Linked DNA regions of Homo sapiens. The protein of the gene in region 1 purifies or fractionates together with the protein of each later gene. This does not show direct contact. Each region holds a gene or a part of one and is shown on either strand. Other genes may lie near its edges.

Region 1 (3,649 bases):
CTAAGTGTCAAGGGGTTAAATAACCAGCACAAAAGATACTGCACTTCTGATTGTAGCATTTGGCAGAACTGAAAGGAAAGGAAGTTGTGCTACATGTTCAAGGGATTGTGGGCAACATAAAGATGACACCAAGAAAAGATAAAATGTCACATGAAGTCTTCATAGTCTTGTACATATCCTCCATCATAACCACCATAATCTGCCAGATCATCTTTCATGGTGGCTTTTAATCCCCCTCCAGGAACCACACCTTTCTTCTTCTTTTTGGCTTTGCTTTGCTAAAGATGAAAGAGAGTTAATTCATGAACCTTAGTGTGCTATGGGCATCTTATCTGGTACAGCAACCCTCATAAACAAACACACAAAAACCTTTGGTCCCAGAAACACTAGTTCTGTAAGGGACATCCGAGCCTACATGTTTTGGACCTGAACAGGTCTCCCAGAGTCAGTCTCTCCAAAACTTGATCTGGGTCCTTGGTCCTGCTCTGGATACCTAGCCCACCAGCAGGGGTTATAAGTTATTGGTAGACAGCCTTAACTTCACTGAAGCAAATTTAGAAAAGTGTGGATAAGTACCCCCCAATTTAAAATCACAAAGCTCTAACCTTTACTTGACATACTTCTCTTACTTTACTCTTATAAATACTCTGCAAAGTGAGTATTATTGTTCCTATTTTAGAAGGGAGAAGACTGAAGCTTAGAAAAGCTGATTTACCTATACCTATTAAGTAGCAGTGCTAGTATTTGAACCCAGTCTGTGATTTCAGCAATTTCTATTAACTCAGAAAAGGGGAACATGTCTGGAAACAAAAGGACAGTAATAGCACCCATACTCCTCTTCTAGTCTAACTTAAATGGTATTAGTGAGTTGCTTGACTTTTAATTAGGACAGGCTCCTATTATATTTGTTGACTGTTAGACCTATAACCCCACTCTAATTTAATACCCATTTCCCTACACAGCTTGCTCTTACCTTTTCTTGCTTCTGTTTTTCACTGCAAAGCACAGTCAGTGAATTGGTAATTTTTTTCAAGTCATCAATTTCCACTTAAAAAAAAAAGGGCATACCATTAAACTTGAATTTTTAAGCATTTTGAAAAGTTAAAGCTAAATATGTACATTCCATATATATCTATATATCCCAAAATGTACATTCCAAAAGTGTTATGAGAAATCCAATTTGTTCATTGTTAAACTTCAGTAACTTTGAAAGGACCATGAATTTCTCCTCTTTAAACGTAAGGTGGCCGGGCACAGTGGCACATGCCTGTAATCCCAGCATTTTGGGAGGCCTAGGTGGGTGGATCACTTAAGCCCAGGAATTCGAGACCAGCTTGGGCAACACAGCTAGACCCTGTCTCTTGAAAACAAAATTCATTTTATTTATAATGACGACCTGTAATCACCAACACACCATTGCTCAACCAAAGAGAAACTGTCTTTATAGCTCACAATGCTCCCTACTATCCTTCCTCAGTCTAAACAAATGGGGGAGGATAACATGCCCTTCCATTAACACACCCCCAGTAATCAGGGAGAACAGACAAATAAACATGAAATGACAATTACTATTATTTTTTTTTTTTTTTGAGATGGAGTCTCACTCTGTCACCCAGGTTGGAGTGCAGTGACGCGATCTCGGCTCACTGCAACCTGCGCCTCCCGGGTTCACACCATTTTCCTGCCTCAGCCTCCCGAGTAGCTGGGACTACAGGCGCCCGCCACCATGCCCAGCTAATTTTTTGTATTTTTAGTAGAGACGGGGTTTCACTGTGTTAGCCAGGATGCTCTTGATCTCCTGACGTGATCCGCCTGCCTCGGCCTCCCAAAGTGCTGGGGTTACAGGTGTGAGCCACCGCACCCGGCCTATTTTATTTTTTTTTTTGAGACAGAGTCTCGCTTTGTCACCAGGCTGGGGTACAGTGGCGTGATCTCGGCTCACCACAGCCTCCACCTCCCAGATTCAAGTGATTGTCCTGCCTCAGCCTCCCGAGTAGCTGGGATTACAGGTGCGTGCCACCATGCCCAGCTGATTTTTGTGTTTTTTTTTTTTTTTTTTAATAGAGATGAGGTTTTACCATGTTGGCAAGGTTAGTCTCAAACTCCTGACCTCAGGTGATCTACCAGCCTCAGCCTCCCAAAGTGCTGGGATTACAGGCATGAGCCACCACGCCCGGCCAGAATGACAATTCTTAAACCTACAATGACAACACCCTATCCCATGATGTCTCCATTTTCTTGCACGGGAACTACAATGAGAACAGTGACCATCTCTATGTCCTACCAAGAAATAGTCCTGTTCAGTGGACAGCATTATCAGCCTTATAAAAATATGAAGCTGGAAAGAGACACCAGTTTTTAGCTACCAGAAAGTGTTCAGTTTTGGTTAGAGAACACCTCCAAAAACCAGAAAAAAATTAGTACATGCAGAATAAAATATCAACTCTGGGCACATTACCAATCAAATGTAGAACCCTCAGCTTAGTGATAATTTATCAAAGAAAACCCAATTCATTGTGTAGGATTCCTTTTTCTCCATCTTAAAAACTGCAAATAGGCTGGGCGTGGTGGCTCACACCTATAATCCCAGTACTTTGGGAGGCCAAGGCAGGGAGATCACCTGAGATCAGGAGTTCCAGAGCAGCCTGGCCAACATGGTGAAACCCCGTCTCTACTAAAAATACAAAAAATTAGCCGGGCGTGGTGGCAGGCGCCTGTAATCCCAGCTACTCAGGAGTCTGAGCAGGAGAATTGCTTTTTTTTTTTTGAGACGGAGTCTCACTTGGTCACCCAGGCTGGAGTGCGGTGGCACGATCTCAGCTCACTGCAAGCTTTGCCTCCCAGGTTCATGCCATTCTCCTGCCTCAGCTTCACCTTGTTAGCCAGGATGGTCTACAATCTCCTGACCTCGTGATCCGCCTGTTTTGGCCTCCCAAAGTGCTGGGATTACAGGCATGAGCCACTGCGCCAGACCAGGAGAATTGCTTTAACCCAGGAGGCAGAAGTTGCAGTGAGCTGAGATCGTGCCTCTGCAATGCAAGACTCCATCACAAAAACAACAACAACAAAAAAACTGCAAATACTAGCAAAACCAGTCCCTTCCATACATTCCTGCTTCACCACCCATGGCTGTCACTCCCATTCACCCTGCCCTGAAATGTATGACTCCTATCAAGGTGTGGCACCACAACCACGGACCCAGAGAATAGGTGCCAGCCCTGTCACTCAACTTGCACCCTGTCTAATTCTGATTTGTAAAAGACAGTGGCTGAAGTCTCACCCAACCCAAATCCTACAGTGCCAGAGACCTTTTCCCTCAAAAGATACTTCCCAGCCCCTCTCAAGTGATAATCAGATAAAAAGAATAGGCCAGTGTTTTATTAGCTGCTTTGCTGACAAGCCCAGGTATCTCTTAGGGAAGCCATTGTAAAACAAGAAGTCCTCTTACCCCTACAAACAAACAAAAAGATCCAGCACTCAAATTCACTGTATCTGCAGAACAACATTCACAAGGTAATTGCTAAAAACAGCAAATCATGAGTCTGTATTATAGTATCCTTGAAAATAAAAAATAACCTTCAACCTCCTGAAGAGAACATCCTACTAAAAATCTACCCAGAGGGGCTAGAAATTAGAATTACTTACATGA
Region 2 (3,393 bases), on another chromosome or scaffold:
CATTTCCGCCATCCTGGCCGTCAGTGCCAGTGCATCTGCACAGACTGTTTTTATTATTACCTATTGTAAAACATCAGGTTCACTCAGGAGAAATATACGTGTAAACATTTGCTGTCTGTCATGACAGGTTTGGTTGTTGGTGGTGTCATTTTAAGAAATAGCAGGTGCAGCTCCATCTCCCGAGTGGGGTTTATGGCCAACAGTCTGAATCTAGGACGTGTGCTCCTGGTTTGCAGCGCTGGGCAGGCAGTGTTTTTTTGTCGTGGTGGTTGTTGGGATGTTTCAGAAACACATTTTAAAAAGAAAGAGATCAGCAGCGAAAAACCATATGGCTGGCTACATCTTTGGATTACTGGACTCCAGGACGCCCAAGCCAAACCTTTCAAACCGGGGTACAACTTTGCTGCTGTTAATGCTGCAAAGAGGAACAAAAACAAGAATTATAGCCCCATTGATCTTCATCAGAATTAGGGTAACACTAGCTAGGAAATGAGTTCAGCAGAGGACCTGGCCTCCAACAAGAAATGAAAATGACTGATTGGCCAACAGCCCTGGCAGAGCTGCCCCTGGTCATACTGCGTCCAAGGCCTCAGCTACACTCCAAGTAGTCCTACTTGGAGCAGCAACGGTGGCTCATTCATCTCCAAGTCCCAAGCTCCCAGCATGCTCAGTACTGCTGTGGGTTCCTAGGAATTGTTTTCTCATTTGCAGCCCAGGAAAGCTCTTGCTCCAAGTAGAACTGAGAGAGAAGAGAAACATGACTCCCAGGATACCAGGAGTGACAGGGCATGTTCCTTTTAGCAATAAACTCTAATACTGGGGTGCATCAGGGCCACCTGGGAAGCAGGTTGAAATGCAAATTCCTAGGGCCCCATTCCAGAGATCTGGGTTCAGCAGGTCTTGCTGGGGAGGGAGAACAGAAACCTGCATTTGGTAAACAGTGCATTGACTGCCACAGGGGACTCAGCAGCCATGCTCTTGACAAATGCTGACCTGGGGTCTGGTCTATGGTACACTGGGCAGCTGTAAAGGAAGTAACTTTGCCAGGGTGGCAGGGTGGGGACGGGGCAGAGACTTTGTTTTCATCAGAAAAATTGTCTGGAGCCAGGTACCTCTTTGCTTTAAGACAATTTTTCTGAGGGTGCCACTGAAGACACAACCCTTCCAAGCTGGTATCTTTCATGGCCACAGAACTTTCTGTGTCTTCTGATCTAACTCTACAGAGGGGACTGAGACAGGAGCCAGCGCAGAGGGTTCCTGTGACCAGGGTGCCAGCCTCAGGGCAGCTCTGAAATCATTCCACTCCTTGTTGGACAAAATCCCCACAGGTTAAAAGCCAAGCCAACACCCTCCCAACCTCCGCCCGCCCCGCACTAGGCACACACCCAGTGGGAGGCTGGTGTGCTCAGGAGGGTGGAAGGCATCTCACTAAGGTGTTAGCAGTGAGACAGAGCCACCCAAACAAAAACAAGACCAGCCCTCAGAAGAACACGGGAGCAATCAGTCATGTCCAGGAAGGTAGTTAGAAGCTGCCCAGACTGCCTTGGAGGGAGCTCAGTTAGTGGGATCCTCTGAGAGCAGTTACTTGGGCATATGCAGGCCACGTGGAGAGGGCAGAGGGCCAGTTTTTAAAACAAAGCAAAAGAAGTAGCCTCGAGAGAGACGACTGGAGCAGCAGAGGTGGCATCCCCTGGGTTAGTGCCCGCATCTCATTTTGCATTTTAGCAGAAGTCACGGTGCTGAGTTGTTGATTAGGAGGAAGAAAGCCCCTGGTGCATGCAAGGCAGCCAGGCCTACAACCTACAGAGGGAAAGAGAAGAAAGCAAAGAACAGCATCAGAATCATAGCCCCAATGCAGAGCCTGTCGGGAGCTAGAGGTCTGGCCAGAGCAGCTGGGCAGGGGACTCCCTTTCTCTTCCAGAGAGAAAGGGCCATCCTGGACTCCATCCCCCAGGCTTGGCTGCACTGCATGCTCAGAAGGGATCCTGGGCACAAAGAACCCTCTCTAAGCTCCCGCAGGGCACAGTTGCAGCACGTTTATAAAGAGGATGGAACATGCCCACAGCTCCTTAGCCCTTGACGAGTAAAATCTACTTCCAAGAGTATTTCTGCTTAACTGGATTCTCTTCTCTTGAGCTCTGGCCAGGGGGACTGGGATCCTGGGGGCTCAAATCAATGACCAGAATTTTCTCCGACCCAGGGACAAGCCACCCATTCACTCATGGTGTGGACAAAGGCCCCGCCACATGCTGTGGCTCTTCTCTCACCCAGCGAAAAATGCAAGCCTGTGTGACCCTTGCTGGAAGCCATTTCAGCTGCAGAAACCTCACTTTGGTTTGCGAGAATAAATGACACAAAGATGGGAGAAGCTGGGAAGCGGCGACAGAAAGGAAGCAGGGCTTGTGTCAGGAAAACCAGAGACAGGCAGCCAGCGAAGGAAGTAACAGGAACACACTATTCCTCCAGAATCGGACAGGAGCTCTTAAAGTCAGGGTGGCCGTAGCGTCCTTTTCCATAGTAGCGGCTCCTCCAGCGACTGGGAGTGCCCAGCGACCATTCCACCAGGCGTGGGAAGAGCGCAGTCCGGCCCCGGCATGTGATGGAGTCAGGCACGTGTGGACAGGTGGAGGAATCAGGTGATGGGAAAGTGGGAGATGACAGAACAGCACATCCGCCACCCCCCGAAAATAAAAAAGTGACAAGATCAATGGAAAGAAAAGAGAAAGTGAGAATTAGGGGGCAAGCGTGTAGAAAGTAAACACTGTGAACAGGAAGCTTTGACACAGACTCATTCAGGAAAGGAAAGCCCGCATGCTTTCCTCGAAGGGGCTGGGCAGGGAACAGCCCCATCTGTGACTCAGTTTCCTGCCTGTGAAATGAGAAGGTGGGACTATATGGTTTTTGGGGAATCTGGAATGATGTTCTGAATGCCAGTGTCCACCTAGTGGAGCCTTTTCTTTCGTCACGGAGAAAACCAGGGCCCAGCTTGTTAAGCAAGTTGCCCACGGTCTGATTAGAGCTTGGCCTCGCTGCCTCACATCACCCTCCTTGAACTGCTAAGAGCCCCATGCTCCTGGTCTCTGCTGGGATAGTTCTGGCTCAAAACCCAGCCCTGACGACCTTCTTCCAGAGACTCTTCCTCCTGTCCCCCAGGTGGATGCAGAGGCCCCCATCTGGGCTTTATCACAGCACTTGGCATGGTATCACCCTTTGCTCACATTCATTCATGCACATTAAATATTTAGTGCCCAACTATAATGTTCCTGGGACTGTACTAGGAGCCAGGAATACAAAGGTGACAAGAAAGAGTCCTGATGTGTGCAGGTTTCATTACAGTGTGTCTGTTTGTCTTTAGGACACTGCAATCTCCTTGCTGGTGGAACCCTGGCCTCG
Region 3 (3,649 bases), on another chromosome or scaffold:
CGCATCATCTTCTCCCCACCTAAGCTATACTTCCACTTTCATCCAAAACCCAATTCACCCTCAAAATCCCACAACCTGAAATCTAAGTCATCATTCTCTGGTACCCAGTTCAAGTCACTCCACCACCTCAGCATTTAACTGTTAACATTCCCTTTCCCCATAAAAGCTCCGTCCCACCGGCTTACTTACCTGGCCGGACAATGACAGCAACCTGGGGCGTCTCCCCATTAGCTTGAGGCTCCAGACCGCCTCCCGTCTGCAGGACACAAAGGGTTACCAAGTTTGCACTGAAGAGTCCCACAACCCTTCTTTACTAGAGCCATTTCTACTTTAGCTCTGCCTAGAAATCCAGGAAAGCAGGGAAATAAATCCCTTAGTTGAAAGAAAAGATCCAGGGACTTGGGAGTCCAGGGCAGAACAGACATCCCAGCCAGGGTATCACTCGAAAAGCAGACAGTACCTGGGGAGGGGTGGGTGTGGAGGCAGTGCGGGCCCCAGACATGATCTCCTCTGTGATATCCTTTCCTCCTTGGTTTGGATCTCGAATTCGGATCTGGGGAAAGAAAGCTATAAGATGAGTGGGAAGCAGGAAGAGCCCACCTCTCCACCCTGCCCCAATCTTAAGACTCTGGGCCAACTCCCCACCCCCCAGCGGGAAGCAGGTAGGTAGGTGCCAGAAACCCCTTGAGTTCCACTTTCAGCCCATCTGGCTGCTCTCGTAGTCCCTGCCCCAGCTCCCACCCTTAAGAGACCCTTGATCTCACAGAGCAGCCCTGTACATCACAATGCCCCTCCCTCCCTCATCCCTACCCCACCAGCAGTCCCCAAGTCAGTGGCTGCACACCCTGGGGCCCAGGACCCCCATCTAGAACCCAATCGGCTCACTTGTGGCTAGTGTGCCTGATCTCTGGGGGCAGGGCCCAGATCCAGTAGGTGGAGCCAGGGTGACTCAGCGGCTTCCCCAGCTCTGGCACCCTATTCTGGGCACCACGCCCAGGGCTTGAGGACTGAGCAGAGGCGGAGGCCTTGAGAGCTTCCAGGACTGGGGGGGCAGGGGGGAATGGGGGCTGGGGCCACAGAAAACAAACCATTTCCAAGGCAAGCCACTAGAAACCCAAAACCAAGCATAGTTCTTCCAACCCCCCAGCACCCAGGTCTCGCAGGAACTTCCTCGCTAGGCACTTCAGTCTTCCCATGACCTGCTTCTATGCTGAAATCTTAGCATCTTACAAAGAACCTGAGCCCTCCACAGACACCATTCTCTGCCCACTCTCAGCTCCTTCCTCCTCAAGTCACTGCTCTTTCCGGCACAATGTCCCAGCAGCACCTGACCTTGATTCTCCCCTTCCCAGATGTCCCGGAGCCCCTCACTGCTACTCACCGTCTTACGCTCCCTCTTGGGAGCAATCTGGGGTGGCTGGTTCATCAAAACTGGGGTGGGGGCCACGCCAGTGGGAAACTGCTGCACCCCTTGGGCTGGATAGTAGGCGCCAGCTTGGGGGAGGGGGGACGGAGAAGAATGGTGGTAGCGTCAGGGCCCAACCATATACTAATGCCTGCCTGACACCTCCCACCCCAAAACCTCTCACCACCCACAGCCGGCCCCTTGCCTTGCCCTGCCCTGCCCTCCTCCCCCAGGGAATTAGGTGTCTGTCAAAGCTGGGGAACCAGTCTGAACTGCGTTTACAAGAATTCCTAACACACACACACACACAAACACACACACACACACACACACACACACACACACACACACCCCTCGTAGGCAGGCACTCTTTCCTACCACACACCAGTGACCAGGAGGACTTATGTCTGTCCTTCCACCGTACAAGTTACTCTCGTGTGTGTACCCCACCCGCTATCAACATGTACACACATACTCTGAACCTGAAACAGAACCAGGTCTTTGGCTGGTAATGAGAGAAAGAGATCTGCCAACCCTGTTCCATTTAACTTGAGTCTAGTTCCTGTCTCCAGCCCTTTACAAAGGGGCAAAGAAACAAAGTAACATTATGAACTAGGCTCAAGATGAAGAAAAATTAATTCCTTAAAGCAAACTATCTCCAAAGTGGGTGAGTTCTTTTTTCCCCTTAATTTTTTTTTTTTTTTGAGATGGAGTCTCACTCTATTGCCCAGGCTGGAATACAGTGGCACAATCTTGGTTCACTGCAATCTCCACATCCCGGGTTCAAGCGATCCTCCTGCCTCAGCCTCCCGAATAGCTGGGATTACAAGAGTGCATCACCAGGCCTAATTTTTGTATTTTTAGTTGAGACAGGGCCAGGCGTGGTGGCTCACGCCTATAATCTCAGCACTTTGGGAGGCTGAGGCAGGTGGATCACTTGAGGCCAGGAGTTCGAGACCAGCCTGGTCAACATGATGAAACACCATCTCTACTAAAAACACAAAAATTAGCTGGGTGTGGTGGCACACGCCTGTAATCCCAGCTACTCGGGAGGCTGAGGCAGGAGAATCACTTGAACCCAAGAGGCGGAGGCTGCAGAGAGCCAAGACTGTGCGACTACATTCCAGCCTGGGTGACAGAGCGAGACTCCGTCTCAAAAAGAAAATTAAAATAATAACAATAAAATTTAGTAGAGACGGAGCTTCACTATGTTGGCCAGGCTGGTCTCGAACACCTGACCTCAAGTGATCCGCCTGTCTTGGCCTCCCAAAGTGCTGGGACTACAGGCGTGAGCCACCGTGCTCAGCCCCCCTCAAATTTTAAAATAGAGACAGGGTCTCACTAAGTTTCCCAGGCTGGTCTCAAACTCCTGGCCTTAAGCAGTCCTCCTGACTCCCAAAGTGCTGGGATTACAAGCAAGATCCGGGCACATTCTTTAATTTCATCCCTAAATTCCACTTGTTTTTGACAAGCACAAGTGTATTTGTTTAAATTTTGCATACATATAAACAAAAACATACATGTATGAGAGATTCATACTCAAAACTTTTCCTGATAGGTGATCAAAAAACTTGGAAGCCACTGCCATAAAGAACAGACTAATCCTTCCCTAGAACATAAATAAAAAATAGCTACAAAAACCTCCCAAATTTGCATTACATGGGCTCCCAACCATGGAAGAAGTGTCACAGGGAAAGCCTACTAATAGGCTCTCAGGCTGGTGCCTGATCCTACATTCCCTGATGTGGGAAAGACTCTTAACTCTCCTGGCAATAAAATCAAATTTTCTCCCCACAATCAACACCAGTTAAATATTAAGCACCAATCCCTACCACCTATTAACCTTATCATTTTTAGACCAGAAGCCAAGCCTGGGAAGGGTCTTCTGCTTTAGAAATCAGCAGATGAGTTTAGATGCTCCCTTGGGCTTGTTCTCACCTCTGACTCCCTCCCCTGCTTACCGTAGGTCCCAAATTCTGTAGGGCTTGCACCTGGATAGAAGCCTGGGGCTCCTGGCTGCACAGGGTACTGCTGTGTCGGGACAACGTATGTGGAACGCCCCTGGTGGGGAAGGGGGAGAGGGAGAGAAGGAGTTGAGGGAGCTATGAGTTCCATATCAGACTCCAAAAAGAACATAGGTCAAGACAAGACAAGCCAACTCTGGGCAATGACCAGAAGGAAGTCCCACCTCTGGAAAAGCAATGGAACTGGAGGGTCAGGGTGAGTTAAGTGAGAGGTATAGGG

The links.
Region 2: the proteins of EIF3J (region 1) and KSR1 purify together in Homo sapiens (co-immunoprecipitation; one large-scale study listed by IntAct). This does not show direct contact.
Region 3: the proteins of EIF3J (region 1) and EIF4G1 purify together in Homo sapiens (affinity purification with western blotting; 3 studies listed by BioGRID and IntAct, with this or other methods). This does not show direct contact.

What each region holds. Positions count from the first base shown.
Region 1 is NC_000015.10:44,557,647-44,561,295, reverse strand, and holds part of EIF3J (eukaryotic translation initiation factor 3 subunit J), read right to left. Parts: coding exon 3,646-3,649; intron 1,048-3,645; coding exon 974-1,047; intron 279-973; coding exon 147-278; 3' UTR 1-146. UniProt on the Homo sapiens protein: Component of the eukaryotic translation initiation factor 3 (eIF-3) complex, which is required for several steps in the initiation of protein synthesis.
Region 2 is NC_000017.11:27,620,336-27,623,728, reverse strand, and holds part of KSR1 (kinase suppressor of Ras 1), read right to left. Parts: intron 2,537-3,393; coding exon 2,456-2,536; intron 1,801-2,455; coding exon of another isoform or gene 1,794-1,800; exon of another isoform or gene 416-1,793; coding exon 337-415; 3' UTR 1-336.
Region 3 is NC_000003.12:184,317,534-184,321,182, reverse strand, and holds part of EIF4G1 (eukaryotic translation initiation factor 4 gamma 1), read right to left. Parts: intron 3,467-3,649; coding exon 3,367-3,466; intron 1,495-3,366; coding exon 1,382-1,494; intron 921-1,381; exon of another isoform or gene 554-920; coding exon 461-553; intron 257-460; coding exon 190-256; intron 1-189.